3 separate regions of the Homo sapiens genome follow, and regions 2 and 3 are each linked to region 1. The links come from fine-mapping of genetic effects on gene expression. A gene starts in region 1. Each other region holds a variant in brackets. All regions are shown on one strand. Distances are between the middles of the regions. Region 1 holds the start of BNIP3 (BCL2 interacting protein 3). Region 2 overlaps LOC105378565 (a long non-coding RNA gene). Region 3 has its middle 5.2 kb from the start of PPP2R2D.

Region 1 (8,176 bases):
AAAAAGATACCAGCTTAACCGGGTGAATATACAAACCCACAAATTAGTAAGCTATGCAGATCAACTTCCTAAGACAATTCAGAAGGAAGAAAAAAACTAAGGTCTCAAAGATTATGAATTTGCAACTACAAGAACTGACTAACCAAATGAGGCCTTTTAAGAAAAGACAGGGCCTCCTTCTAATGACAAAAGGGCTGTTTGCTTCTACTGTAAAAAGCCTGGCCATTTCAAAAAAGATTGTAGAAAATTTAACAGCAGGACCAGTGAAAAACCAGGATCCCACATGATGAACAGGATTGCTCTGATGATCGAAGGGAGGTGTTCCTATTTCTACTAATGCCTTAGGAGAAATGGACATTGCCATAAATGAAGAACAGACACATGCCCTCAAAGACACTGGTGCCACTCTTTTCGTCCACTTTAAGTTGTCTCCTTCCTTGGAGTAATGGAACTGTACAAACGGTAGGGTTATCTCATCAGCCTATCACTGGATACAAGTCCAAGCCCTTAGAATCCCAGGGCCCTCATTCTTTTCTTCATTCCCCCACCTCTCAGACATCTCTTAGGCAGACATTTTGTGTTGGAACGTCACAATGCATGCTTTCCTTCTCCCAAAAGGAAGAAATGGATTTAGGTTTAGAATGGAAGGAGCAAATGGAAAAACTACAGAATGAGAAATTACTGAAATTATAAAAATACAGATCAAACAACTTTTTTTTCAACTGGCACTAATGACACGGATGGCTTAGGGCAAGCTTTGTCAGACCACTTATGGTCAGAGTCTTCCACCGACATTAGTAAAATATATTCAGCCACTTTCATTAAAGTGGAAGTAAACCTGATTAATCCTTTACCCAATATCAGACAATATCCTCTAAGGCCTGAAGCAAATGAAGGAATAAGATCCGTAACAAAAGACTATATTAAAAGGGGTCTAATTATTCCTTGCGCCAGCATGTAATACTCCAATCCTTCTTGTAAGGAAGCCGAATGGGAAGAGCTGGTATTCTGTACAAGATTTGAGAACCGTCATCAACACTGTGATCCCCAGACATCTGGTAGTACCAAAGCCCCATCCTCTTTCGGCAGCTGGAAGTGAGACACTGTGACTCATTTATGTAGTGCCTTCTTTAGTATTCCAGTGGACCTAGAGTCAGTATTTGTTTGCTTTTACTTGGGATGACTGCGAGCATATCTGGCCTATCAGGAAATATTGCTGATGAAACTGCTGCCTCCATCACAGCCCAACAAAAAGCTACTGACTCACTGGCTAAGGCTGCACTGGACGACTGCATTGCTTTCGATTATTAGCTGAGCAAGCAAGTCTATGTATGGTGGCAAATACCTCTTGATGTGCATAAACCCTTTCCACGAAGTAGAAACTCATATGGGAAAAAGTACAAGCCACTAGGCTACACTATTCTGAACAATTCTCCATTTGATTTTCTTCGTAATACTTTTAGTTGACTCCCTCGAATAGGTTCCGTTTTTCATTCTGGCATACACATTCTCTTTTTCATTGTAATCCTTATGTGCACCGTACTTGGTAACATTTTTGTTTTAATAGAGATGGAGTCTTTCTGTGTTGCCAGGTTGGTCTTGAACTATCAGGCTCAAGTGACCCTCCTGCCTTGGGCTCCCCAAATGCTGGGATTACACACAAGAACCACTGCCTGGCCAGCACTACAGTTCTACTATCGAAATTATTAATGCTATGCTATGTATCTCTGGCGGTTTTTTTTTTTTTTTTTTTGAGACAGGGTCTCACACTGTTGCCCAGGCTGGAGGGTAGTGGCCTGATCATGGCTCACTGTAGCCCCTACCTCCTGGGCTCAAGGAATCCTCCCACAGCAGGTGCCACCATACCCAGCTAAGTTTTTTGTATTTTTTTAGGGGAGAGAAAGCGTTTCGCCATATTGCCCAGACTGGTCTCCAACTCCTGGGCTCCAGCGATCCTCCTGCCTCGGCCTCCCAAAGTGCTGAGATGAAAGACATGCGCCCCACACTGGCCTCTGGATGTTTGTTACTCCTGAGAAAACTAAAATCATGGCACTCCAAAGACTAGAGACGATTCAACAGGCAAGAGCAGGGATGAAATGCACGCAGCGACTGAGGTCTGGCTTCGCGGCTCTGTGACCCCGGTTCAGCTTCTGAGCGCCTGGTTCCTTGGCGGGACGCCTCCTCCTTTCCCGCAAGACCAGACACGACTGTCTGGGAAGCAGCGTTTCTGGGGCGCACCTTGACACTTGGATTTGGATCAACAATGCTTTCAAGAAGAAAGACTTTTGATCAAAAGCGGGAAATGAGAAAGCGACTTTCCTCTGAAAAGTGCCTCCCAGTCCCGAGGCTGCGAGGCCCCCACGCCAGGCTGGCTCCCACGGAAGCCGGGCACCCACCCGGCCCGACCAAGCGCCACTCCGCCCCGTGGACGGGGCGTCCCACCCCGGGGACGCCCGCCCCACACCGCGTTTGCACCCCGGAGGCCCCTTGCCGCAGAGGCGGACGGCGCGCCTCTCCCGGGCCCCTGGGGTCCGCGCCTCCCTCGGGCAGACTCTTTCGACTCTGCTCGAGCCTCCGCTTCTTCCTGCGGGCGGACGCCCCGGACACAACGGGCCCCGCTGTTCACGCAGGGGCGCCCCGGCGGGGCGGGCAAAGACCCGGGGACGCGGTCCCGTCCCGAGACGCTCAGCTCCGGCCCACCGCTCGCAGCTCCCGCCCCGGGCGCAGGTCCCGACCCCACGGGCCGTCTCGGAGCCGCAGCGGCCGCTTCCCTGCACGTCCTCACGCCCCCCGCACGGACGCCGCCAGCCCCGCGCCTCAGTTTCCCCACTAGCAGGATGGAAAGACGGGCCCCGCCCCGAAGCGTAGCGGCGTCTCCGTGGTAGCCAGTGCCCAGAGAGTCCGCCGGTCCCACCGCCCCTTCAAAGGAGAACCCGGCCCACCGCCCGCCGCGGCGGCGACCGCGCAGCCCACTCGTCACGCGGCCCGCGGCGTCCAGCCCGGGCCGGCTCACCTCAGGCGGTCGCTGCCGCCCTCGCGCCTGCGCGCCCCTCGCCCCGCCCCTCTCCCCGCCCGCGTCCCGCGCACCGCAGGCCTCTGCCCCTCGCCCACCGCAGGACCCGCCCCGCGCACGCGCCGCACGTGCCACACGCACCCCACGCCCCTGCGCACGCGCAGGCCCCAAGTCGCGGCCAATGGGCGACGCGGCCGCAGATCCGCCCGGCCCCGCCCTGCCCTGTGAGTTCCTCCGGCCGGGCTGCGGGGCTCCGCTCAGTCCGGGAGCGCAGCTGGGCCGCGGCGCTCCGACCTCCGCTTTCCCACCGCCCGCAGCTGAAGCACATCCCGCAGCCCGGCGCGGACTCCGATCGCCGCAGTTGCCCTCTGGCGCCATGTCGCAGAACGGAGCGCCCGGGATGCAGGAGGAGAGCCTGCAGGGTGAGGCGGAGGAGGCGGCGCGGGAGCCGAGGGGGCGCGGGGGGGAAGCCTGGGGAAGGCCAAGAGGGCGCCAAGGGGAGGTTGCCGGGGAGGCCTAGGGGGCATCGCGGGCCGGGCGAGGCTGCGCCATCCTCCCCTTCCGTACCCACCCCTCCTGCGGGCATGCGGAGCCCGGGGCGTGGGGACCCCGCGTACTGCCCGGGGTTCGCGGCCTCGCCACTCGGGCGGGGGTTGGCTTGGACCCGGGTCGGACCGCACGGGAAAGCCCCGATTCTCCAGCTCCGCGCGAGCTAGAATTCCACCTGGAGGTGAATCTGCGTCTCGCAGTTGGACCGAACAGCCTCAAAGTCCACGTTGCCCTCCGCGGTCTGTAGTTCAGACCAGTATTGGTTTTAATGACCAAACACCAAGGCGTGGCAAGTGGCCTGTTATGAGCTTTAATTTTGTTATTAATGTTTATATCCATGGTGACTGTTAGGATTTCCTCAAGGGTGAACGCGGAGATGGGAGGGGGTTACAGCGTTTTTAAAATATGGCATTAAATGGGCATGTTCCAATTTCACTAGAGGGTCGTTCCAAAACAAAGCTTTAAATGACTTACGGGTTAAGAAAACACAAGCAAAAGGACGCTGCCCGTGCAGCACTCAGTCGTTACAGCCTGCCTAATGCCCGAGTAGAGGCTCGCTGTGTGCCCTTGGCTAGATTCGCAAGACCATCCGTTCACGCAGCGGGAAACGCAGGCCCGGGGTGCAGGACTTGCCCCACGCACAGCCGGGTGGCGTGGAGACCCACCCCACCCGGTGGGTCCGCGTCAGAGTCCAGACGAGCCTTTGCTCAGGGAAGCGGGCACTGAAGCCGCCTTCCCAGGGTCCCTAGGGCCAAAGCCTCGGAGGAGGGACCTGGTGGCAGCTGACCTTTGTGTTCTTTGAAGCCAGAGTTTACTAAGCAAAATTAGCATGTAAATAAGCTTGGGAAAGGACTGCTGAAACCTCTGACAGTGAACTTTTAATCTTCATTGAGAGTTTTTAAAACCATATATTCACATAAATTTAGTGAGTTGCTAATTTTATTACAAAAAAAAAGATTTTACTAGGCAGGACTTAGTTACCGTAATATATTGAATAATATATATATATACATATGAACACTACAAGCTTTTTTTTTTTACCTTTTTTTTTTTTTAAGAGACGGGGTCTCACTGTGTTGCCCAGGCTGGTCTGAACTGGGCTCAAGCGATCCTCCCGCCTCGGCCTCCCAAAGTGCTGGGATTATAGGCCTGAGCCACCAGGCGCGCCTGGCCTAAAACCATATTCTTTAAAATCCTGTAATTCGGATTTTTCCTCTTGAAATTTAAACATTGGCTAATTACTATTTTGAAATAGATTAAGAGGTGTTTTCCTATCTTTTGTCATAAAATAAAGTCCAAGGGATGTTTTTATAAACTCTTTGCCATAAAATCACCCATTTTCCGGTTGTGAAGCCGCGTTACTCCTGACATTGTGCGTTTCACTGTCCGGCTGGGATCTGGGCGCTGGGAGGTGGAGGGGGCTCCGGGGGGCTCGGTCCTCTCTCCAATATGTAACTTACACAGGCTGCTGAGTCATTGGCAGTGCAAGGCGGCCAGCGCCGGAGTTACGAGATTTTTGTTTTTCTGTTTTGTTTATTCTATAAAAAGATAGTTACCCGCGGGGTGGATCCCATGTAGGCGATTCCTTGGGCCGCCCTGAGTGTCCGCGCGGCAGGACGGGGCCACTGTGGGCTCGGCGTGGGCGGGGTTGGCCGGTCCCGCGGGCTCCAGCTGCCTGCAAATCCGGGACGGAGCGGTGGCTCAGGCAGCGCTCACCTCTGCCTGTCCGATTTCACTGCCCCTTGTTGACCTCGGAACAGAGAACAATGGGAGCCTTGCAGCCAGACCCACGGATGGAAGCAGCAAGCACTCTCTCCTCTGAGTGTACCCTCTGGGGCCAACTGCTTTTCCTAAAGAGTTAATGGCAAAATGGGCTGATTCTGTTCCTTTCTATCTCTTGATCATTCTAGCTAAAGTTGTTGACTCGCAGGATGCTCGTATTTGTCCTTTTCCTTTTTTTTACAAGCCCAGTCTTACTCCCCCAGGCTGGAGTGCAGTAGCACAATCATTATAGCTCACTGTAGCCATGAACTTGGCCCTTTTCTCCTAGACATGTCACTGCTAACATGCAGGAGAGGTAGGATTCTGTGACGAGACCGTGTCACGGTGGCGGGGGCATCACTTCCTTGAAGGACCCACTGTCTTCACCAGGAGGGCATCAGTTCAGTAAAGTGCATGCCCATTTACTCTGGAGGGCCGTGTTTAATAATCCAAGCCCTCACCTCTTCACCCACTGCTGTGTCTGCAACTGGCAGATGGTTCTCTCTCTTGTCAGAGGCAACTCACCATGGGCAAAGTTGTATGAGGGGAAAAGATGTTTTCTACTTATTTTGGAGTGGAGTTGTAGCATTGTGTGCTTTGAGACCTGAAGGGGTTGCAGACATCGAGATTCTCGTCCAAGACTTGCATTTCATAGATGGTCACAATGAGGTTCTAGAGGTGGAGTGAAAGATAAGGCTGGCAACAACACTTAAGGAGAAGCCAAGGTCTCTGCATGAGGCAGCAGTGGGATACCTGGAGCCCAGATGCCTGAGGCTGCGTGCAATAGGCCCTGGAGGGTCCTGGAGGAGAGGAGGCCAGAGGTCCTGGAGGCAACAGGAAGGTGGAGGGAAACGAGCCCCGTTGGAAGCCAGGGACCTGATTTACCTACCCAGCTGACTTGATACTTGAAATCTTTTGTCAGGCGGGTCTCTTTTGTTCTCTCCCCACTAACCTGAGAAGCTTTAAAGGTAAAACAGCAATTTCTTAGAGCCCACCTCCCCTGGGGAAGAAGCCCTTTGTATGGTTTTGGGGTGCTAGTTCCCTCGGGGGTTCACAGCTCCTCTGCTTCAGGTTTTTTTTCTGGGATGCTGCCTCCCTCTGTTCTGACATTTATCCCAGAGCTTTTTCAATCTATTTGCCTGGATTCCACCCCAGCATCCCAAATAGTCACTTTCAGAGTGGGCTGAGGCTAGGCTTTTGGAGAACAATGAAAAAACACCACAGGTGATTCTCCCTTCATAGCCAGAGTTGAGGTTGTCACCCCAGGTTAGGGCATAGGGTGGCCTTGAGAACTTGGCCCTGTGTTTACTCCACGTGGGGCTCGTGGCTGTGGCCCATGAATCCATGTTGAGGAATGGGACCCAGGGAGTTGCCCTGGGACATACAGAGGGCAGTGAATCGAAGGGATTCCCTGGAGTCTGTCACTGGAGGGAGAACTGCTTTGGGCACCTAGAAAAGCTGGATGTCAGATGATTTTTTTTTTTTTTTTTTACACAAAGTGAGAATAAGAAATGGATTAAGAACTCTTGTTGGACTGTATTTTGTCTCTGAGGCAGACCTATCAGTTTTCTTTTTGTACTGTGATATAAATATTTATAGTCTAGGCTTTTCAAAATCTCATCTACCTTGATATAGGAGGGAGGTAAGATTTACTGGCTGTGTGTCTTGTTAGCAATGTAAATTATAAGTGAGTGAGGAGGGGGAGGAACATGAGAGGGACGCGAAATGAGATTAGGAAGGAGGGCTTTTCTTGCAGCAGCAACAGCAGCACCTTTCCGTCTGGGGCCTAATTATACTACAGTGATTTGAAGTGTAAACTGCTTGTGATTATGAGCAAGTTTTCTAAGGTTATTAAGCAACCTTACTGTAAGCCCATCTTTCTTTGAAAAGGTGAACGATCCGAGTGGAGAACTGTAACACGTGAGTAGATACACAGCACGCTCCATTCTCCAGGAAGTGCCTTCCTTTCCTACGCGGTTGCTGTGGGTTAATAATAAAACTCCTGTCCCTTAGTAAATCATTCCTGGGAATACAGCTTTTGGGCCCAAAGTCATTAGCCATGGACAATCTGGAGTGAGTTTTTTTTCCTTGTTTCCTGGATTTTTAGGTCCTTTCTGGGGTGATGTTTAAAAAGCACTGCTTTGGTTCGAATGTGTTCCTCCATGTTGCCAGTGGGATGGTAGTAAAAGGTGGGCCTTTAAGAGGTGGCTCGGCCATAGGGGCTCCTCTCTAGTGAATGGGATTAGTGCTCTAAGGGGCTGGATGGAGGGAGGTGGGTCCCTCTGTAGCCTCATTGAAGGGATGAGGCAGGAAGGCCCTCAGCCGACACCAGATGTTGGTGCGTGGATCTTGGACTTCCCAGCCTCCAGAACAGAGATCAGTTTCTGTTCGTAAATCACTAAGTCTGTGGGATTCTGTTGCAGTAGCGCAGAGGATGACAGAGATACACTTGTCTCTCCTTCATCTTCCTCTCCCTGTTGTCTTCAGCCTGCCCCTTGTGTGATAGATTACAGTATGTGTTTGGTCTTGACCCTACCTACTTCCTGGTGCAGAGCACCTAAACCCCTGGGGCTTCCTGAGCAGTGTCTTTTTTTTTTGTTTGAGACACAGAGTTTCGCTATTGTTGCCCAGGCTGGGGGGCAGTGGCATGATCTCGGCTCACTGCAACCTCCCCCTCTCAGGTTCAAGGGATTCTTCTGCCTCAGCTTCCCGAGTAGCTGGGATTACAGGCGCCCACCACGCCCAGCTAATTTTGTATTTTTAGTAGAGACGGGGTTTCACCATGTTGGTCAGGCTGGTCTCTGACTCCTGACCTCAGATGATCTGCCCGCCTCGGCCTCCCAAAGTGCTGGG
Region 2 (8,176 bases), 110 kb after region 1:
CTCCTCCACCTTTGTCATCCGTCATCACCTTTTAACTTTCATTGTTTTAGAGAGGAGGAAACTGAGGCATTTTCCTGACAGTCTTTGAAAGAAAGAGAAAAATCAAACAAAGAGAATGCCCGTTTCATTCACCTCATAAGAAACAGGTAGGAAAAAAAAATGCTCATTTCTCCTGAGTTTGGACACAAAATCTTCCTCCTGGGTTGGCCACTAGGGAACAAAGTTCTGGTCTCTGAGAAATGCTATTAAAATATTCCGTGACTATTTCATTTTAAATGTTAATCTGGTTTCCACTCGAGTTGTGAAGAAGAAAGTGGGAGATTCTGTCGCGATTCAGTCTTCAAAAAGGTTTTGTGATGTTAGGTTTAGAGCTTTGCTTATTGATGTCACCAAATCCGGCCAGTAAAATTAAGAGAAAAGAAGTAGGTTTGCCAAATCACGGGTGCAATTGCAGATGTGTTGTTGGTTACACGGACACCTCCACCGTTTCCATGGGTCCCTCAACTTTGCATTTCTGGAGCAGGGCTGGGCATGTGTAGCATTGCTGAGCCTCCCAGGAAGAAGCCAGGAGGTGAGTGTGCACCTCCTCGGGGGCTGCCCTCCAAACCCTGGGCCCTCCCACCCCCAGCCAGGGAAGCATCGGCTGGGTGAGTGTGGAGATGCCTCTCTAAGCTCCAGCCCCCAGAATGGAGTCTAAGGGTGGAGGGGTCTCAGCTGGGGGGTAGGAGTTTGTTTCCGTGGAATCTTCCCCTCGGAAGAGCAGGTGTCAGGATGCAGGAATGAGGGTCTCCCAGATGGGCCACGGGGACCAGTTTCCTGGGAGAAGTTGCACGGGGTCCGGTTCCAGCGCCCTGAGGGAAACAAAGCCATTTTCTAGCACAGAGGAAAGAGACACTGAGGCATTTTCCTTCTGGGGTGGGCGTGGTTGGGCCACTCTGCTTTCTCCTGGTGGATTTGGTCAGAGCCTCTGAGGTCTCCCTGCATGGCACTGGGCCTGGCCTGAGCACCATGTCCTTGGCCTCAGCCTGTCCTTCCCGGCCTCCCAGGAATTCCCCCCAAGCTCCGAGGTAGACCAGATACACGTTTGTTGAATTAAAGAATTAACGTTGGCCGGGCACGGTGGCTCACGCCTGTAATCCCAGCACTTTGGGAGGCCGAGGCTGGTGGATGGCCTGAGCTCAGGAGTTCGTGAACAGCTAGGGTAACACGGTGAAACCCTGTCTCTACTAAAGTACAAAAAATTAGCTGGGCATGGCAGCATGTGTCTGTAGTCCCAGCTATTCAGGAGGCTGAGGCAGGAGAATCGCTTGAACCCAGGAGGCGGAGATGGCAGTGAGCTGAGATTGCGCCACTGCACTTCAGCCTGGGTGACAGAGCAAGACTCTGTCTTAAAAAAAAAAAAAGTAGAATTAATGTCTGCTCTGAATTCCAGAGCTCCAGGAAGCTCTGATTATAGAAACAGGCCTCCTTGTTTATGGGGGTCCCCTACTGAGGAGACTCAAAGCCTGCGGCATCCTCTGACTTTGAAGGGGCTCCTGTAGGGAGTGGTTGCAGGGTGCAGGTGCGGACATGCCAGGCTGTGCAGGGGAAAGTGGCCAGGTGCTGTCCAGAACTAGCTCCAGCGCCTCAGGCCTCCGCTCAGTGCTGCCACAACCCGGGAATGAGGGCGTCCCCACAGCGCCCAGGAGCAGAGTCCACCCCTTCCAAAGCCAGCGTCCAGGGTTGCTGCGTGACCCGCTTTCCCCCCATGCCGGTCACACTCGGTACCACTGTTGACTCAGGAAACAGCTCCCTAGCAGGGGTGGAACCTGGAGTTGGGCTCCCTAGCCACAGCCACTTGAGGTTGTTCTGTGAGGGAGCTGGCAAGCCTGGGCTGCCCTGCTCCTGCCTGCTCGGAGTGCAGCACGAGGACGAGCCGGGACCTCTCCCCCGTGTGGTTAGTAAGAGTGGATGTGCAGCTCCAGGGAGTGAGCAGCAGGCTCTTTGGTTTCATGGAATCACGGACCAGCGCTGCCTCACTGAGGTCCCCGGGAGGGCATGACAGCCTGGGAACCTCTGGAGGATGGGATCCAGTTAGAGATCTTTTCCTCGTGAGGCTCAGCATTCGGGCAGCTCCTCTGTTGGATTAGGAGGGCCCTGACTTAGATCCCAGGCAGGGCAGGACCCGGGGACATCACAGGGTGCTTGAGGGAAGGGAGAGCCTGGGGTCTGGCTGAGTAGGAGGCGGGTTCGGCAGGCATGGTGACGCCTGGGCCTGTGAGGCCGCCCTGATGCACGGAGTGTTTGGGGCGGTGGCTGTGGCCATAGCACGAAGGAAGGAAGCACTAAGCCCAGAGCCCAGGGATGGGCACCGCTGAGGACCTGCAGGGACCCCCGTCCTTGAGGGGACTTGTCTACAGCAGTGGCACCCGGTGGCAGCAAGAGTGACAGTGGTGGATTCAGAAACCCACGCGGGCTCCTGGCATTTTGAGGGTGGGGTGGAGGTGGCGAGAGGGACTTCCTGGGAAGACATTATCTGGGAAACAAAAGGGAAGGGACCAGAATTATGTCCCAGGACACAGCACGCTGCCCTGTGTTCTCCTGGAGGGCCAGGGTGGGCCTCCACCTCTCTGGGGGTGCTCGTTCACAGAGGATCCCCTATGTAAGCCTCGGGTGAGTTGAGTTGGGGTCTGGCCAGGGCTCCCACTGATTGCCATTGTCTCCGCCTTCAGGGACCACAGAGACCCCCGGGCCTGCTCCGGGTTTGCCATGGGCTCTGGCTGCTGGGAATGGGGCCTGTGTGCCTGTGTCCCCGGCTCGGACTAAAGGCTCCCGCGTTGAAGTCAGGGGTTAATACCCTGCTCTTGATTCCAGAGCTGGAAAGACTCCACGTTCTCCTCTCTCTCTTGTCCCCTAGCTCCCTGTCATGGTGAGACCCCACTGGTCTGAGACAGCAGGGATTTCTGATTCTTCTGGTTACAGGTTGACGAACTCAGTTCCGACCTCTAGTCCCCGGGAGGACTTTCCAGAACCCTCTGTGCCACCAAGTTTCTCCTCTGGGTGTCCAGCATCCTGCCCTGAGGGTTGGCTCACGGCCCACTCCTGCTCCCGGCTGTGAGCCCTGGAGCCCCGGCGTCTCCCCAGAGCTTGGTACACCCAGCTGGTCAGAAAACCTTTGCAGGACCCAAGGGCAGGCCCTGCATGGACCCTGGGCCCAGGCTCCCGATTTCCTCTTGGTTGGACTCAGCCTGTGAGGGTGTCTGAAATCTGCAGCTGAGAATAGTGAGTGCCCCATGCTGTAGACACTCGAGACCCCTTGGTGCTGTGTAACCTCACAGTTCCTGCCACAAGGACGCTTCCAAGGAGCACGGAGTGTGACTCATTACATTTCACTGCATCTCTCAGTCACCTGATATTTTAAGTACACAGATTTCAAATAGGCTTCCAGGAACTTCTATCACTAGACCTGAAGATTCATTTGTCTTTATCTGGGAGCTCATTTTGTGTTCACTGTTTTAATACTTGTCATTTCAAACTAATATATCAGAGTCAAGCAGAGAATAATTTACTTGGAAAAATGAGACTCCATAGATAATATAAATAACAGTAAAAGAGTAATTTGGGTGCATTTGCAGGATATTTGAGGACTTGAATGGTGGTCTAGAATGGTACATGTTGTTTATTGTCACTAGTTTGCCAGGAAGGACATGTGATTCCACGAGTTGGAGGCATGGATGCTCTGGGCCCCGGGCCGCACCCTGTGACTTGCGGGCAGTGTGCTTCATGGGAAGGCGTGTGAGTAAGGGTGCTCTCTCGTTGGAAGCATCCTTGTCTCATCCCTAATCCTGCCATCTAGGCTGATAAGAAGTTAATGCCAGGAAAAGAAAATGTGTGTCTTTCGCCAACTCCGTCTGCTGGGTGGAGCTCCCATCTGTAATCCAGCCCCAGGCCAGATGGCTTCCCTCACCGCTGTATAACAGAAGCACACAATGTATACACAATGTATACACAATGTATAATCTGCATAAAAACCATGCATCTTCCCGGAGCACCGATCTTACTCCATGACAACTCACGGAAGCATTGTTTTCTATATTAAAATGAATAAGTATGTTATACATAGTGAAATATTGGCATTAAAAAAGAGTTAATAAATTTCGTAGGACGTTTTCTTTGTGTGGCTGGCAGGTCCAGGCCACATTCCAGATCCCTGGTGCAGCAAGCTCACTTGCCCAGAATCTGGGGAAAGCCCCGGCAGGTGTCATCCTGCCCAGCTTGGCCAATGGGCCCCGTAGTTACTCCCTGGGTGATCCTGGACGAGTTGCTCGGGTTGGAGAGCCTCCGTTTCCAGGCCGTGTTCCCTGGTGTGATCCCAGCAGGTGAGGGTGAAGGG[A/G]CCTGGTCCTGGGCAGGCTTGCCCCTGCCTGGCCCCTCAATCTCCCCTGGCTGGAGGGTGGCTTCAGCTTCAGCCATTCAGACCTTTTGATTTAAACCAACTTCTGTTGTTTATTCAAGACATGACAATCCGAAGGTTTTGAAGCTTTTGCCTGGGAATTGATCTGGGTTTTAGTCTTTGGGCTCATTTTTACCCTTTAAAGATGACAGCATGTGCCATGTCGGGGGAAGAAAGGGGGATATTGTTGGTGAGTTGAGCTGTGGAAAGTATTTGGCAAGACAGGTCCTGGGGACCCAAGGACCCCCACAGAGCTCACCTGCACTTGCCTCCGCTAGACATGTGCTTATTCAAGGGGAAGGCAGTGCTTTGAAAATGCTGCTTCTCAGATGAGTGAGAAACCATGGACAGGCGTGTGGGAAGGCCCCGCAGCCTGGCCCCGCCAAAGGCACTTTGTTGCCTGCCCCCCGTTCTTGTGTCCTCCCCACCTCCCTGCCGAAGGATTGGTGGGTGATGGCCTCATGTTTATCACCACAAATTAAATACACTTATTTTGGACAACATTAACATGTTCATCAACTCTGATTTTTAAAATATTTGTTAAATTAGCAGGAGTTCAATTTTACTCCTTAAATGGGCTGAAAGTCAGTATTGATTTATTTAGTTGGCTCAACATAATTGCAAAGTAAGGTCTTAAACACAGCTTATTAACACTTTTAATAGGATGCAAAAAACCCAACATTTCAACAGAGATAACATTCTAGCATAAAAATAAGAGCAATTATGAAGGCTTTAGGAGGTGAAAAGTCAACTCTACCTTATATGGATGATGCTGGAGATTTTATTAGTAAATGTGGGTTTACGTCATCTGAGATTACTCACCAACAACGTCATTCTTCCGAGCCCGGCTGAAGCTGCCCTCCATTTTCCTGGGAGACCAGCACCGCTGCAGCTTCATTTTTGACTTCCACACTGTGGAGTATTTGGGGAGCGTCCACCCCGCATCTGGGCAGGAAGGCGGAGTCCTCTCAAGTTTCTCCTCTTGCTGCTGGGATTGTGCAATCCTTGAAGTAGATTTGAAACAACCAATCCTCCAGATCTGGGACCTTCATTCCCAGGCTGGGAGAATGTGGCCCTGAGGTCAGAATCCAAGTTTTACCCCCAGGAGAGCTCTGTGAATAGAACCTTCTAGAACTTCCCACCAAGATGAAGTGTTCTAGGTCTCTACTGCCCAGTGCAGCAGCCACTAGACACACAGAGCTGCTGAGCACTGGCAATGTGGCTGGTGTGGCTGAAGAAGTGATTTTCAGATTTCATTTCTTTATAATTAATTTGAATTTAGGCCAGGCATGGTGACTCATGCCTGTAATTCCAGCACTTTGGGAGACTGAGGCGGGTAGATTACCTGAGGTCAGGAGTTTGAGACCAGCTTGGCCAACGTGGTGAAACCCTGTCTCTACTAAAAACACAAAATATTAGCCAGATGTGGTGGTGGGCACCTGTAATCTCAGCCACTTGGTAGGCTAAGGCAGGAGAATTGCTTGAACCTGGGAAGTGGAGGTTGTAGTGAGCCGAGATCGTGCCATTGCACTCCAACCTGGGCAGCAAGAGGAAAACTCTGTCTCAAAAAAAAAGAAATTTAAATGCAATAGGCCTGTGTGCTTGGGAAAGTGCACCTCTAGCAGATGGCTTAGAGCTCCTCTCTCTCTCTTTGTAGGGATGGGGCCTCTCTATGTTGCCAGGCTGGTCTTGAATTCCTGGCCTCAAGTGATCCTCCCACCTCGGTCTCTCAGAGTGCTGGGATTATAGGCATGAGCCACCATGCCCGGCCATCTCTCTCTCCCTACAGCTGGCCTACCCTTCTCTCTGCAGCAGTGGTCCAGGTCACCGTGGTGCATGCTGGGAGAACCCCGGAATCTGGGGAGGGGACATCCAGCCACCCCTGTGCATGCTGGGAGCATTGGGCTGCCTTGAAGGGCAGCGGGAGGCAGGTGGCTAGGTACGACCACCACCTCCGCGTTGGCGAGACCACCTTTCCTCAGACCTTCCCTTTGATTCTTCTTCACGTGAATCAGTTTCCCCTCATCTCCATTTAAGTAGATTTAGGATGAAATTTACGACGACTCTTATTATGAACCACTGGTGAATCATGACCCCGTTTGCCCTCAGCTTTTCAACAAACCTCTGCAATCTCTTCCCAAGGCCTGGACAGAGCAGTGGCAGCTCTCCCTCAGCAAGGACAAGACTTTCAACTCCTCCATGGGGAGTAAAACCCACCTACCAGGTTTTAAGACTCAAAGGCTGCTCCAAAGTCCTTTTGCTTGTATCAGTCTATTTTTTGTAAAAAAGTCCTTAGTTGAAGAGTCCACATAGGTTTCCCATGGGTAAAGAACCCTATTAATATGGTCAAATAGAGAGTTTTCTTTTTTCTTTTCTTTTTTTTTTTTTTTTTTTTTTTGAGACAGAGTCTTGCTCTGTCTCCCAGGCTGGAGTGCAGTGGCATGATCATGGCTCACTGCAACTTCCGCCTCCCAGGATCAGGCGATTCTCTTGCCTCAGCCACCTGAGCAGCTGGGATTGCAGGTGCCTACCATCACACCCAGCTAATTTTTGTGTTTTTAGTACAGATGGGTTTTTGCCATGTTGGCCAGGCTGGTCTTGAACTGCTGACCTCAAGTGATCCACCTGCCTCAGCCTCTCAATGTGCTGGGATTACAGGAGTAAGCCACTGCACCTGGCCAAATAGAGACTTTTCTAGAACAGGACCACAAACCACTCCGCTCTCCCTGGGCCTAGCTCCCCATCTCCCCACCCCCAGCCACTGGAAACCACCACTCTGCTTTCTTTCGCTATGAATTCAAGTACTCCAGTTTCCTTCCATGAGTAGCGTAATGCGGTATTTGTCCTTTCGTGACTGGCTTATTTCACGCACCACAATGTCTTCAGGTTCGTGCAGGTTGTAGCATGTGTCAGGATCTCCTTCTTTTTAAGGCTGAATGATATTCCATTGTCTGGAGAGACCACATTTGGTTCATCCAGTCACATCCATCAATGGGCTCGGTGGCTTCCACCTTCCGGCTGTTGTGAATGGTGCTGCAGTAAGCATGGGTGTGCAAAGATCTGTGTGAGACCCTCTACTTTCAGTTCTTTCAGGTATATACCCAGCAGTGGACTTTTTTTTTTCCTTTGAGACGGAGTTTTGCTCTTGTTGCCCAGGCTGGAGTGCAATGGCACAATCTTGGCTCACTGCAACGTCCGCCTTCCAGGTTAAAGTGATTCTCCTGTCTCAGCCTCCGGAGTAGCTGGGACTACAGGTGCATGCCACCGCACCTGGCTAAGCCAGGAGTGGATTTGCTGGATCATATGGAAATTCTGTTTTTAATTTTGTGAGGTACAGCTACACTATTTTCCACAGCAGCAGCACCGTCTTGCACCCCCACCGGCAGTGCGCAGGGCTCCAATTACTCTACATCCCTTCCAACACTCGAGGACAGAAAAGGCAAGAATGAATGCGAGGGTCAGCAAATCGTGTGGAGTCGCTTGGAATTTTTAATGAGCGTGGCTGTCTTGATCTGCTCTGCCCAGAAGCACTTTGCAATTACGGAATATGGGTAGTTAATTTGCTAATTTCTGTCTTCTTGGTAGTGGCCATCAAGATGTGAGGCGTATCTCAGTGTGGTTTTGATTTGCATTTCCTGGATGATTTGTGATGTTGAGCATCTTTCCATGGGCTTATTGGCCGTCTGTGTGTCTTCTTTGATGAAATGTCCATTCAAGTCTTTCACCCATATTTGAATTGGATTTTTT
Region 3 (8,176 bases), 85 kb after region 1:
ACATTCGTCCACTCCATTAATATTATTTATTGACAGCTCCTGCCACGTGCGGCACACTCCACAGCCCTGGGGGTGAGAGGTTAACAGAGCAGAGAAATCTCAGCCCTGGTAGAGCTTACCTTTCAGTGGGGGAGACAGACAATAAGGAAATAAATACATAATAAGTCGGAGCTGGAGAGAAAAATCAGGGAAGAAGGAAATGTGTATGGGGAGAGTTGGAGTCTTGCACGGGGTGACTGGAGAAGACTCAAGGATAAAGAGCAAACCATGCAGACGTCTAGGAAAGCTTGGCCAGGAAGGGGAGACCACCAAGTGCCAGGACAGGAAGGAGGGCCATGCCTGGCATGGGCAGGAGGCAGCCAGAAGCTGCGTGGGTGCAGAGTGAGTGGAGGGGAGGCCAGGGGTTGGAGTCAAGGCAGGGAGGTAAGTGGAGGAGGATGGACAGTGGGCAGGCCATTTAGGGGACTTGGACTCTGAATGAGATGGGCTCATGAACAGAAGACGATCGTGATGGACTTGGGCTTTTGGATGCTCTGCTGAGAATAGCTTGTGGGGACCCAAAGAGGGGAAGCAGGGAGACCAATCAGGTGGCCAGCTGGGCTGACCAGGCATGGGGATGAGGATAGAGTGGTGAACATGGGGTGGGGTGGTGAGAACCAGTCAGATTTCAGAGAAAAGTGCTTCGACAGCAGAGCCCCTGGGATTTGCTGATGGAAAAGATGCGGTGTGAGAGAAAGCAGGGACTTAGGAATGCCTGCTCTCGGGTGGTCTGAGCACCTGGAAGGATGGAGTTTCTGCAGCAGAAGGCACAGCTGGGTGGGGGCGGTGCAGCCCGACCAGAGGTTCGCTGTCAACACATAGTGCTGTTGCACAGACAGGCTGGGAGCACACAGGGAAGTCAGAGCCAGAGCATCAAGGTGAGAGCATTTAGAGGTCATTTCAAGTCAGGAAACTGGGTGAGGTCACCTCAGGAGGGAGGACAGATGGGGGACAGGACCAAGGACAGAGCCCTGAAGGGGTGAGGACGTGGAGGATGAGTGAGCAGCCTGCGAGGTGGGCTCCTGGAGAACCCATCTCCAGGATCCACTGAAGACAGGAGGGAGTGGCTGCTCTGTGATGCTATGTGATGAGTATACAGGAGTGACCATTTGGTTGTAGGGACTGGGAGGCCATTACTGACTTGGACGGAGCGGTGGCTATGGAATGGACTCAGATCACAAGTTTGCAGAGGGCTCTGGGGACAGTGGCAGGAGAGGAACTAGAGGCAGTGAATACCTACTTCTCTGTTGAGGAGAAGAAGAGCAGAAAAATGGGGCTGTAATCTTGTTTTTAAAATGTAGATTTAGCCTATCTGCCCAGGAAGACACTTGAAAACCTGAATTAATGACCAGATCTCTTTTATTTGTTAACTTAAAAACCTGACAATTTATAAATTTAGAAAAAGAGGAACTTTATTTCTTATAAATGGTTACAGCCAGCAAGGTGGCCATCCCCCAGGCCAAGATGGGAGATGGCTCTTCGTAGGAGGAGGAGTTGGGGCAGGAGCTCTATGCTGAACGGGTTGGCTAAACATACATAGACAACAGGCTTTGGGAGGAGCTATGAATACTCAGGAAGGGGCTCCTGACACGTGTATTATGTAACATAGGACCCAATCTCACTCTGTCGGGGAGACTAAACATTTGAATATATTACGACTGTAATCCCAGCACTTTGGGAGGCCAAGTCTGGCAGGTTACCTGAGGTCAGGAGTTCGAGATCAGCCTGGCTAACATGGCGAAACCCCCTGTCTACTAAAAATACAAAAATTAGCTGGGCGTGGTGGCGCCCGTATGTCTGTAGTCCTAGCTACTTGGGAGGCTGAGACAGGAGAATCCCTCCAACCTGGGAAGCAGAGGTTGCAGTGAGCCGAGATCGTGCCGTTACACTCCAGCCTGGGCGACAGAGCGAGACTCCGTCTCTAAATAAATAAATAAATAAATAAATAAGTAAATTAGGACTAGGCCCTGTACCTCAAGAGGTCTTTTCAGGACAGGAAGGCATGCAGATGTGCAACCTCTGTAAACCGGCCAGAACCAGTCCAAGGTCGGTGGTTTCTTATCAGGAGACAGTTACAGTCTTCTGTCCAATGAAAGCTGTAGTTACGGCTGCTGGAGCAGGGCTGGGGGTCACTTAGTGGCTGGTGGAGCTGCAGTTGCTTAATGTTGCTCCTATCAAGGCCAGTGCTTATTTAGCTGCTGGAGGGAAGGAAAACCCAACAGCAGTGGGAACGACGTTTTCTCTGTAAGTGTGCGGTGCGTGGCTTCACCCTCCCCCCGCACGGCCTTAGGCCCTGTTTATGATTTGGCATCTTACTGCCACAGAGTCCGTTCTGTCAGTCTTATGGTCTCTAGTTTAACGTTAACGCTGGTCTGTTGTGTCCAAACCACAAAAGGGCGGGGGTATCAGGAGGCCTGTCTGACCTCCCATCCCCCATTATAGCCTCAGTGTTGAGGTTTTCCTGGGGCCCCCCCTGGCCACAGGGGTGTTCGTTCAGCCAGTGGGGGATGTAGGATTTTATTCTTAGTTCCTATGTAACTGCTTTAATGTGTGTTAAATATGTCTTTTGAAGTGATGACAAGATAATTAGTTTTTGTTTAGAATGTATTTTCTGGTTCATTAGCTCCCATTAAATTAAACTAAAAACAAGATATAGCCACAAAAGTAACATATTCCTGAGACTGGGGGGCTGCCTTCCCTGCGTCCCACTGTGCATCAGCTGACCAGCAAGAGATTTTTAACTATTTTTTAAAAAGAGATTTTTAACTATTCTTCTTATGATGCTAAAAACTTAAAATATTTGGCTAAACCACAATGACTTTTGCGCCAACCTAATAGCTCAATGAATTTCTCTGTTTGGATTCTAATTGGTGTTTACAAGTTTCTGAGTATTGACAGCAATTTTATTTTTTAAAATTGTTTTTCAGATCTCACAGCTGAATTGAAAATGCCTGGTGTGTATTAGAATCTAGCCTATTGTAATCATAGAAGGCAGTACTGTTCAGTAACTAAAAGGCATGAGCTACTACTGATACAAACAGCAGTCCCAAATGAGTCCCCGAAATATTACGAAAATGAAAGGAGCCAGACACGGAGGCGTGCAAGCTGCATGCGCCCCTTTATTTTATCATACTTAGTCTCATGTGTCAATGTAGCGAGGGTATAGTATGTAGTTATTTCATCAGAACTAAGCCAAGTATTGCCACGAGGGTGTTTCGTGGATGTGGTTAACACCCACAGGCAGTTGACTTTGAGAAAAGGAGATTACCCTTGATAATATGAGTGAGCCTCATCCAATCAATCAAAGGCCTTCAGAACAAATACTGAGGTTTCTTGGAGAACAAATTCTGCCTCCAGGCTGCTGTATCAGCCCTTGCCTGAGCTAGCCTGCCGGCCTGCCCTGCTCACCCTGTGCACCCTCTGTTTTTGAACTTGTCAGCCTCCACAATTGTGTGAGTGAGTTCCTGAAAATAAAGCTCATTCCATACACGGTTTCTCTGAAGAATCCTGAAGTTCTAGAACAGGTGAGACTGCTCTACAGTGATTTTAAAAATGGCACAGGGGCTGGGCGTGGTGGCTCACGCCTGTAATCCCAGCACTTTGGGAGGCCGAGGTGGGCAGATCACAAGGTCAGGAGTTTGAGACCAGCCTGACCAACATGGTGAAACCCCATCTCTACTAAAAACACAAAAATTAGCCAGGTGTGGTGGCGCACGCCTGTAATCCCAGCTACTCAGGAGGCTGAGGCAGGAGAATTGCTTTAACCTGGGAGGCGGAGG[T/A]TGCAGTGAGCCGAGATCGCGCCACTGCACTCCAGCCTGGTGACAGAGCAAGACTCCATCTCAAAAAAAACGGCATGGGGCACGAGTGTGGGGATTGACTGGAGAGGGTGGGGGATGGACTGGAGAGAGTGGGAAAGAACTCCCTGGGTTGATGGAAGTGTTCTGCATCCTGATGGCCGCAGCTGTTAATGCAGCACGAATGGTTGTCAAGACTCATTGAAAAAGACACTTAAAGTGGACCCATTTTATTGTATGTGAATGATACCTCAATAAAACAGATTTTTTTAAAGGATTGTTTTATTTTAATGGCTGATCTATGTAATCACGGAGGCCAGTATGTACGGACAACGGGGGAGCTTTTATTTTTTGGTATCTTCCTCCTTGGACAAAGTCTTGAAGATCTCCTCCTTCTTGACTTGGAGGCGCTCTTCACGGCGCTTGCGTGCTTCCTTGGTCTTAGACCTGCGAGCCTCAGCCTAGTCAGCCAGGAGCTTCTTGCAGGCCTTGTCTGCCTTCAGCCTGTGGCTGTGTTCCATGAGAATCCGCTTGTTCGTGAACATATTCCCCTTCACCTTCAGGTACAGGCTGTGATACATACGGCGATCAGGCTTCTTCGATTCACGGTATCTTCTGAGCAGCCAGCACGGAATCCTCATTCTCCTCATCCACGTGACCTCCTCTGGCATTCGGGCATTGGCTGTACCCTTTTGCTTACCTATGCCTATGTGCCTGCCCTTCCGGCGGGCCAAGGTGCTTTTCCGGCATCGAGCTGGAATGGACAGTCACTGGCTTGGGGATGATCAGCCCATCTTTGATCAGCTTCCAGATCTGCTGACGGGAGTTGGCATTAGCGAGTTCATTGGTCTCCTTGGGGTCCAGCCAGACCTTCTTCTTCCCACAGCGGAGGACACTAGCAGCGAGCCTCTTCTGAAGCCTGAGCGTGCTCATGGCTGCGGCCACAGCAGCAAAAGGAAAGAGCTCAAATGAATTATTTTAAAGTCTAACTTACCATAAATTTTCTTCAAGTCTATGAAGGACTTTATATCTTAAGAGTCTGCAAATCACACTTCCCCCAAATACCTTTATTTTAAAATATGTTTTATTTAATTTTCTTTTTTTAAATTATTATTATTATTTTACAGAGTCTCGCTCTGTTGCCAGGCTGGAGTGCAATGGCGTGATCTCAGCTCACTGCAACCTCCGACTCCTTGCTTTAAGCAATTCTCCTGCCTCAGCCTCCAGAGTAGCTGGGAACTACAGATGTGCACCACCACGCTCAGCTGATTTTTGTATTTTTAGTAGAGATAGGGTTTCACCATGTTGGCCAGGATGGTCTCTATCTCCTGACCTCGTGATCCACCCTTCTCAGCCTCCCAAAGTGCTGGGATTACAGGCGTGAGCCACCGGCCCGGCCTTTAATTTTTATTTTTTTTGAGACGAAGTCTCGCTCCGTCGCCCAGGCTGGAGTGCAGTGGCGCGATCTTGGCTCACTGCAACCTCTGCCTCTCAGGTTCAAGGGATTCTTCTGCCTCAGCCTCCCAAGCAGCTGGGATTACAGGTGTGTGTCACCACGTCCAGGTAATTTTTGTATTTTCATTAGAGACAGGGTTTTACCATGTTGGCCAGGCTGGTCTCAAACTCCTGATCTCAAGTGATCCATCTACCTCGGCCTCCCAAAGTGCTGGGATTACAGGCGTGAGCCACCGCACCTAGCCTAAAATAATTTTGATTTATTTAGATTTCAACTACTAAATATTATTTGAAAATACCAAATGTGGATTATTTTCAATTTCAGACTTAGTAACAATCTCAGTGTTATCATAGATGTAGCCTATTGGTAGGATGTGCAATCTTTCCATGGAAAACAAACCACATTTAGAAGCTTGCTAATAGGAGGCGGAGGCACCCTGTCTGCCCGGCTTGTGGGCTGGCTGGAAGAGCAATGGCAGGAGGACCTGCACTGAGACTCTGTGATTAGAGGGGCACGTGCTGGTTTGTGTCTCTGACTTTTGACACATGGCTGCCTCGTACTGCTGGAGCCCGGCAAGGCGTTAGATGTCATCCCATCATTCTTCTTTCCTCCTGCCAGAAAAGATCCGATCCTCATATTTTTGTCACATGCTGAAGGAAGGGAAGAAAGATGGGAAGAAATGAAGGAACAGAAAAAAGAAAGGGAGGTAGGAAGAGAGGGATGGACGGAAGGATGTGACTAGCCCTGTGTTGTGAATTGAGAAGGAAAACCCCACAGTCACCTGCTCCTGTCTCCTGGGCCTTTCTTCTCCGGCCTGGGGGCATTTGCCTGTCCCCTTTCTTCCTCTGCACTCCTTCCTTGTTTCAAACAAAAAAAAAATCTCTACACGCTGTATTGAATGTGGTGGAGAGAACATCGGTGTTCCAGGAACAAGAGAGATGTGTGCATGTGTGTGGTCTGCAGAATAATGACCCTCCAAATGTCCATGCCCCAATCCCCAGAGCCAACTTGTGGCTATGTTACGTTGCATGGCTAAAGGGACTTTGCAGATGGCCTTAAAGTTCCAGGATTTAACCTCGGCAGATTATCCTGGATCATCCTTGCGGGCCTAATCTAATCGTGTGAGCATTTCAAAGCGAGAACTTTCTCCAGCTGCAGTCAGAGATTCAGCAGAAAGGAGAGTCAGAGCGCATCAGAGCACGAGAGGGACCTGGCCGGCGGGTGGTGGAGGGGTGCGTGAAGGGCATGAGCAGGAACCTGGGCCGCCTCGGGGAGCCAAGACTAGCCCCTGACTGAGAGCCGGCATGAAGATGGGAATCTGACCAAACGAACAGCATTCAGACCACAGCCTGGAAGAGTCTGGGAGGAGATTCAGTCCGAGAGCCTCCAGAAAGGGGCGTGGGCCTGCTGTCACCTTGATTTCAGGCTCCCACCACCCTAAGCAGAAGACCAGTCAGGCAAAACTGCCCGGCCTTCTGACCTGAGGAACTGTGAGAGAATAAATAGGTGTTGTAAGCCGTTAAGATTGCGGTAATGTGTTACAGCAGGGAAAGAAAGCAAGTACGTGTACATGCAGAAATACGCGGGCTTTCATAGACTCACTCATCTTGCTGTCCCCTGCTGTCCTTGAGCCTCGGTGTCTTGTTCAGTCATTGATTCACGTTGACATGCTGACACCATAGCCGTGTATGAGCAGTCCACTACTAATTGCCCCTGCTTTTATTCAGCAGGGGCCACCTTGTGAGCTGCTGGCAGGTGCAGGTATGAAGAGGGGTCGACTGTGCTCTTAGCGGCACCCTGGACACAGCCCAAGTGTCCAGAATGGCACTGAGCACTTCACCTGCTCCTCATTCAGCGCTTACAAAGCTCTACGAGCTGAGTATTGTCATCCTGCTTTTTCAGATGATGAAACTGGGGCATAGAGGGATTCGATAATTTGCTTAAGGCTTCACAATCACCAAGAATCGAAGTCCAGTTTAAGGTAAGTTCTAACCTTGAGGCTGGGGCTTGTGACCTCGAGTCTGGATGTTATTAAACACGGCGCAGTCCTGGGGCTTTTATGCTTCCGACTCCACCGTCCATGGCGTGGGGAGGCTGCAGGGGAGCCTCAGCACTGGCTCTGCCTGGCAAGAAGGACACCCTCATGCAGTGACCTGGAAACTGAACCCTCTGGTCACTGCCTCCCGGGATCGTCGTGCGTGGGGACAAGAGGATGGTGGTGGGGCAGGATTTTCCACGCAGCTGCTGTGGCTGATTGCTTCGCCGGTGCTGCGGGGAACACACAGTGGATCCTGTGCCGTGGCTGGAGGGGCCGCTCCTGACGCCCCATCCTTGACCTTTGCAGATTGGCCAGGGGAGCACGTCATGTGAACTCCTTAGCCCTTCCTCCCAATAGCTCTCTCTTTCAAGGATTTCCTGTCTTCTTCTCCACATGCGTGGCTGCTGTAGGCTCTGCTCCCCTCGGATTTCTCCCAGTTGCCCTTGGAGCAGCCTCCCGGCAGTTTCTACCGAGGCCCTCTCTCTGGTTCCCAGCTTCCCTCCAAGCCCAGCCACCAGGAAGGAATCCCACCTTCCTGGAGTTTGGTGTTCTTGTCTTCTATGCAGAAGGTTAAGCCCAGAGTGCCTGGCGGCATGGCCCTTGGACCTCACCTTGCAATGGCAGAGGCAGAGGCATGCATTCCTGAGGTCCTTTCCCAGATAGCTGGAGGGGAGTAGAATTGTGGGGAACCGAACCCTGTCCCCTTTTCTTTCCCCGGACTCCTCCCATTGGGTGGAGCAGCTCCTTTTCTTCTGGGCGTGGCCCTTCGCACGGAACCAGGGGACACACTCTCAAAGCCTTCACTGTTCAGTTTAAGATAACGAGCCGAAGTACAGGTGTAAGACAGAA

The links.
Region 2: its variant is fine-mapped to the expression of BNIP3 in whole blood (TOPMed, PIP above 0.99).
Region 3: its variant is fine-mapped to the expression of BNIP3 in whole blood (TOPMed, PIP above 0.99).

The regions. Positions count from the first base shown.
Region 1 is chr10:131,977,020-131,985,195 of GRCh38, reverse strand. BNIP3 (BCL2 interacting protein 3) reads left to right here and starts at 3,273. Exons shown (of 6, transcript NM_004052.4): 1 at 3,273-3,435. The coding sequence starts at 3,390. RefSeq lists silencers at 2,603-2,722, 2,763-2,952, 3,003-3,302, 3,533-3,762 and an enhancer at 3,170-4,094.
Region 2 is chr10:131,866,713-131,874,888 of GRCh38, reverse strand. LOC105378565 (a long non-coding RNA gene) reads left to right here. Exons shown (of 2, transcript XR_946487.4): 1 at 1-146. Among named protein-coding and RNA genes, the nearest start is that of PPP2R2D, 30 kb to the left of the region's middle. The variant A/G (reference allele first, on the strand shown) is at 4,373.
Region 3 is chr10:131,891,705-131,899,880 of GRCh38, reverse strand. It overlaps the pseudogene LOC100134362. Among named protein-coding and RNA genes, the nearest start is that of PPP2R2D, 5.2 kb to the left of the region's middle. The variant T/A (reference allele first, on the strand shown) is at 3,819.